Regions from separate parts of the Homo sapiens genome. Here region 2 is linked to region 1. The links come from fine-mapping of genetic effects on gene expression. A gene starts in region 1. The other region holds a variant in brackets. All regions are shown on one strand. Distances are between the middles of the regions. Region 1 holds the start of KSR2 (kinase suppressor of ras 2). Region 2 overlaps KSR2 (kinase suppressor of ras 2).

Region 1 (2,912 bases):
GAAGGCCAAGAGAAGAAGAGGTCTACACTGACAGGCGGCCCCATTCTGTGAGCAAAAACCACCTTTTGACCACCTGCAGAATGCGCAAGGTCACGTGGGTTCTCTGCAGCTCCTTAATGTATTACCCGGCACACAAGCCCCCGTGGCATATAAACAAATCCACAAGCGGAAAAAAGAGAGAACTCCCTCCTCAGCGAGGAAGCGAATGACAACGGTAACAGCCGCAACAATAATAATAAATAAAGAATAACAATTACTACTACTACTACCACCACCCAGCCAAGCGCAGACGACAGCAGCACAGTAAAAGGATATCCAATGCAGGCTTTGCAAGGAGAGAAATCACAGAAAAGCAAACCGTGCCCACCTTGCTTGCCCACACCACCACCCCCAGCCCCCAATAAACAGAATCAGAGGGAAAGGGGACCGTGGGGAGAAAGGAGGGGGAAAGAAGGATTGCTTTTTTTTTTTTTTTTTTTTTTTTTTTTCCCGTAGGCAACACCTACCTCCAGGGTCCGGATTTCTTTTTGTGTGAGGTCGTTGGAGGTAGCACATTTGGTCCTAAGCCCTTCCAGGTTGGAGATGCTCAAGTCTATCATGTTTTGGACCAGTTCGCACTGCTGTAAGGCTTTTTGCAAACTCAGAGGCTGCTGCTCCTCGCTTTTCGTCATGTTTTCCTCATCCATCGCTTGCTCTGCAACCCCCTTCCCCTCCTCCTCCTCCCAGAGAGAAAAAAGAGGGGGGGGAGTAGAGGTAGTCTACCCTCCGCCTCTCCAACCACTGCGACTTCTCAACAATGTCTCATGAAGAAGAAATCCAACATCTCACACAGGGTTGAGGGGGTGGGAGTGGGAGGAGGGGACAAGAGCCAAAATTTATTATTTTATTTTGGGATATCAAGCGGACTCCATTAGAATGTCTCCTCTCTCTCTGAGTCTCTGGTCCCTGAAAAGGAGAGATGCTGTTTCTCAGAAGCAAACCAGGTGATGTGATGCTGTCTGTACACTTAGGGAGGAGGAGGAGGAGGAAAAAGAAGAGGAGAAGGAGGAGAGAGAGGAGGAGGGAGAGGAGGAGGAGGGAGAGGAGGAGGAGGAGAAGGAAAATAGCGCTCACTCTTTACACACCGGCTCCTTGAAGGACAAAATTATATATTTTTGGCTGGCTTGCTTTTATGTCAAAAAAAATCTGGTTTTCCCCCCTCCCAGTTGCAGGGACACGGCATGGTCCACGGTTTGGAGTGCTTTAGCGCGTTCTCAAGGTGCTGTCTGCATTGCTCCCGCGGCTGCGGCGGCTACTGCGGCTGGCTGCTGTCTCCTCCCCGCGCTGCTGCTGCTGCTGCTGCTGCCGCCGCCGGGCTCCGGGGGTGACGGTTGCTGCAATCGCTCCTGCCTCGCTCCACACCGACATCTTGCCTGTCAATCAAAGGGCGGGGGGGAGCGAGGGAGCGCCGGAGAGGGATGGAGACCAAGCGAGGGACCTGCAGGGGAGCGGGTTGGTGGAGAGGCGCCGTGCGCGCAGCCGCCCCAGCCGGGCCCCGGCCCCGGCGCGCCAGGGACCCGTCGGAGGAGGCGGAGGAGGAGCGCGCAGACTCGCGCACCTGGCCGGGGGGCGGGATTTCTAGGGGCTGCGGAGCTCGCGTGGCAAAGTGAAATTACTACCGGGAGTGCGTGCGAGCGAGCAAGCGAGCGATCGGCGGGCGGGGGCGCGGAGACAGCGCGCGCATCGGGCCCAGCCTGCTCCCGGGGGCGGCGGGGGAGGCCGGGAGTGTGCCCGAGCCTGGAGGCTGGGCGAGGGGGCGGGGAGAGGGATTTGGTGGCGGGGAGCGGGTGGGGGCCACTACTCCTGCACCGCTCTCGCGAGACCGGGCCGGAGTGCTGCTCAGCAGGTGCGCTCCGGCTGGGAGCAGGTGTGCGCCCAACTTTAAAACCCTCGGTGCGCGCCGGAGAGGCGTCGGCGTGAACCTGGGCACATCCCGTCTGTCTTTAGCTCGGGGGTGGTGTGTGTGTGTGTGTGTGTTTGCCTTTTTTGTTCGTTTGTCCTTTGGGTGTGTGTTTGTGTGTGTGTGCCTTTTTTGTTCGTTTGTCCTTTCTTGTTACTGGGGAAAAAATAAAGCGAACCTGATGATCTTCCGTGAATTTCAGGAAGCTGCCTCCTAGACTTGGTAGCCTGGCCCGCCCTGATGGCTTTCCATTTGGCGAGGAAAAGGGCCTTTGCCTTATTCTGAGTATTCCCATGTCCTACAAGTGTCTGTGTGGCCTGACCCCAGCATACCTAACTGACGTTATATCAGCAAACGATGGCTCCACAGTTAAGATGGTTTTTACCTTTTGAAATTTTTGGAAGCCTGGTGAGGTGGCTCATGCCTGTAATCCCCAGAACTTTGGGAGGCAGTCAGGAGGCTCGCTTGAGGCCAGGAGTTTGGGACCAACCTGGGCAACAACATAGCAAGACCCTGTCGCTACTAAAAATTCAAAAATTAAAAATGTAAATAAAATGGTTGGAAAAAAATGAAAATAACATTTTGTGACACGTGAAAGTTATGTGAAATTCACATCTCAGTGTCCACAAGTAAAGTTTTATTGGAGTACCACCACCCATCTGTTTATTGTCTGTGGTTACTCCTGCGTTGTAAAGCAGAGTTGAGTAGCTGCAGCTGAGACCGGTGGTTCACAACACCTGAAAGATTTACTGTCTGGCACTTTACAGAAAAGTTTGCTGACTCTTGATTAAATCTTTGTACTCTATGTCCACAGTGCTCAGAACATGCTTCACCCTAATCCTCTCCTGGTGGGTTTCTTCTTGTCACTGTTAACTCAAATATCATCTCAGAGAGGCCTCATCTCCCTAACCACCTTATCTAATAGTATTCCCAACACACATTGCCCAACAGATGTATTTAGAATGATTAGCAA
Region 2 (2,912 bases), 400 kb before region 1:
CTCCATCCATGTTCGTGCAAAGGACATGATCTCGTTCTTTTGTATGGCTGCATAGTATTCCATGTATACCCATTTTTAAGTCAAGAAGACTGGGGTCCAGTAACAAGCTCAGTCATTCAGATAGTGATGGGCAGAATTGGGACAATTCATCCCTGCATGCCCACAAGAAGACACTGTGTTCCTCCTCTGTGCCAAGGGCTATGCTAGGCACTGGAGGTATAATAATTAAATAAGACAAGAATTCTTTCTTTAAAGATCTTGCAGTCTAGCAAGAAATTTACTGTCCAAGAATGTAAACCCATCTCTTGTGGCTTCAAGCATGAACATCTCTCTACTCATCCTACTGCGCCCAAATTGCCTCTTATAAATGAGCCCAGCTGGATTTGAACCAGATTTGGGGAGCTTATATTGTCAAGAACCGCTCTCTCTGCAGAGGTCCCTACTGAGATCTACTCAAGCAACAAGTATTTACTGAGCATTTACCATGTGTGCCAAGCACTGTGCTGGCGCTAGAGGTTTAAACAGTGAACCGTCCAGAAATGAGATGGCCCTGCCTTCAAAGAGTTTAAAGTCTGGTCAGGAAGACAGGCAGGTAAATAGACAAATAAAACATAGTAGTATGTAATATGGTGTGACAGAAAAGGGCAGAAGGTGGCACTTCAGATTTGAGGGGAGTCAGGGAAGGCTTCCCGGAGGGAAGTGGTGGCTGAGCTGAGCTTGAAAGATAAATGAGAGCCAGCAGAGGTGTGCAAGAAAGATCCAGGCAGTAGCAATGGGGTGCAAAGACATGTCAATGAGTGGGCACATGACCTGCCACGGGGATTGATGGCTCGGAGAAGCTGCAGCTCTGGGCATGAAGAGGGGAGAGATGCGAGGGGACAGAGGAGTAAGCAAACATGGCGCGCGGTCTCGTCATGAAGTTGGATTTCGCCGAGAGCAAGGGGGAGCTAATGAAGGATTTTAAACAGGGAGGGGAATGCTGGCTAAGCATTTTGAAAAGACACCCTCTGGCAGCAGAAACTTGCAATTAAAGGGCAGCAAAGTTCCCCTCTCATTATCTTCCCTACTCTCTGTACCTGCTTTCCTTTTCCAGGTCACTGCATTAAGTGTTCCTGAAGGCTTCTCGCAAAAAAAAAAAAAAAAATCACGAAACCGAATCCTTGCCCCCTTTGCAGCAGGGCTTGGTTCACTGCATACCCCAACTGAGCATTCTGGTCTCATGTGAGTTCCCCTGTGGTCTCTTGTTTGAGCCAATGCTTCTAGAAATGACTCCGTACGCTCCAAGTGCAGGATATCAAAAC[C/A]AAAAGTGCAGGTTCACTGCATACCAACTGAGCATTCTGGTCTCATGTGAGTTCCCCTGTGGTCTCTTGTTTGAGCCAGTGCTTCTAGAAATGCCTCCGTATGCTCCAAGTACAGGATATCAAAACACCCTTTCCCTCACTGCTAACAACTCAGTGGGGTCTAGCTCTTTAGCCTATAGCTAACCACAATACAAATGAGCAAAGGGCGGTAGGAAGTATTGACATATAAATCAGACCTCGGGTTCCAAGGACATCATGAAAAATCACCAGGAACCCCCAGCACTTTTCTCTCCATAAAAGGACACTGTAAGGGAAGCTGTAAATGTATTACTTGCTGTACCCTCCCTCCTCTCCTCTCCCTCGCCTTCCCTGAAAAAGAAGAAAGCGACTGTAGAGTCTTCTTGGCTCTCTGAACCCAGAGGTGTTCATCAGAACACAAAGATCCATTTGTCATCTTTCAATTCAAGAAAGGATGATGGGAGCATGTGGCAGGCTGGGGGAGGGATGAGGAAAAGCTTTGGTCCAGGTTGGAATTGAGACCAAATTCTTATACTCTGTTCTGCTTGTTTAGTTAAAGGGCAAGCAGAGTGACATGTAGCATTTATTGCCGGCCTGCTGTGTAGCCAGCCCTTTGCCCGTGTAAAGCGGTTAAAAGTCTGGGATCGTGAATCTGAGCGATCAGTGGGTTTGAGTAACAGATCCACACACCGTGACACTTCGAGCCGGCTGTTTACTTCTGAAGGCCTCTGTTTCCTCGTCTGTAAAATGGGGGTAATAATAGACCCTACTTTCCATAGTTGTGGCAAGGATTAAATGAGATCATGCATGTAAAGTGTTTAGCAAAATGTCTGGCACCTGGGTGAGCCCCCAATACATGATAGCATCATCATAATTATCATCATCATTATCACATCTAATCCCACCTCAGCCCCCAGTAGAATTATAAGCATCCCTCAGATACAACTATAATTAGACCTAAATTTTTGCTTATCATAGGTAAAAACGCATATATAGGATGATTAACTCCCATTATAATTATTGCAAAAACTGAAGTGTTTCTATTAATAGAAAAGTAAGTTCAAGATTCAAGCTGGTGATCTCTGAAATACTTGCTCATAATTATATCCTGCCAATATCCTGCCTGTTGTACAAACTCCCAAAGCTTCCAGGAACTTCGCAGCAGCTGCGACATCAGCACTCATCATTTCCCCACTTTTTAAGGTCTGGGTAAATTAGTGCAATGGTGGCTCAAACCAGCCATGGCTTACTTCACACTTTTATCTCCTCATCACCTGTGGCTGCAGCGATTTTGCAAAAAAATTGGACATTTTTAGGTAAAATATATTTTGTTGCAAGAACATAGGAGAGCAGAATGCACAGGGCAAGAGAGAAAATCAAGATGTGCTTGGTTTTGCTGTGTTATTTGACATTTTCACTTGGATTTTGATGTGTACAAACCCAAGTGAAAAGATCCACTAACACGGCAAAAGTCAATTGAGAAGTGCATGGCTTATTTAAGTAAAAATTATTAAAGTGACTGTTTACATAAAAAGAAGTAGGTACAAGCATGTCTGGCCAGCCACTGCAGGCAGGAGGAAAGAGGACTCGTAT

What was found. PIP is the estimated chance that this variant, and not a neighbour inherited with it, causes the effect.
Region 2: its variant is fine-mapped to the expression of KSR2 in thyroid (GTEx, PIP above 0.99).

Annotation. Positions count from the first base shown.
Region 1 is chr12:117,967,570-117,970,481 of GRCh38, forward strand. KSR2 (kinase suppressor of ras 2) reads right to left here and starts at 1,421. Exons shown (of 20, transcript NM_173598.6): 1 at 507-1,421. The coding sequence starts at 686. RefSeq lists silencers at 1,434-1,703, 1,714-1,823.
Region 2 is chr12:117,566,535-117,569,446 of GRCh38, forward strand. The region is part of intron 7 of KSR2 (kinase suppressor of ras 2); the gene reads right to left. Among named protein-coding and RNA genes, the nearest start is that of NOS1, 210 kb to the left of the region's middle. The variant C/A (reference allele first, on the strand shown) is at 1,302.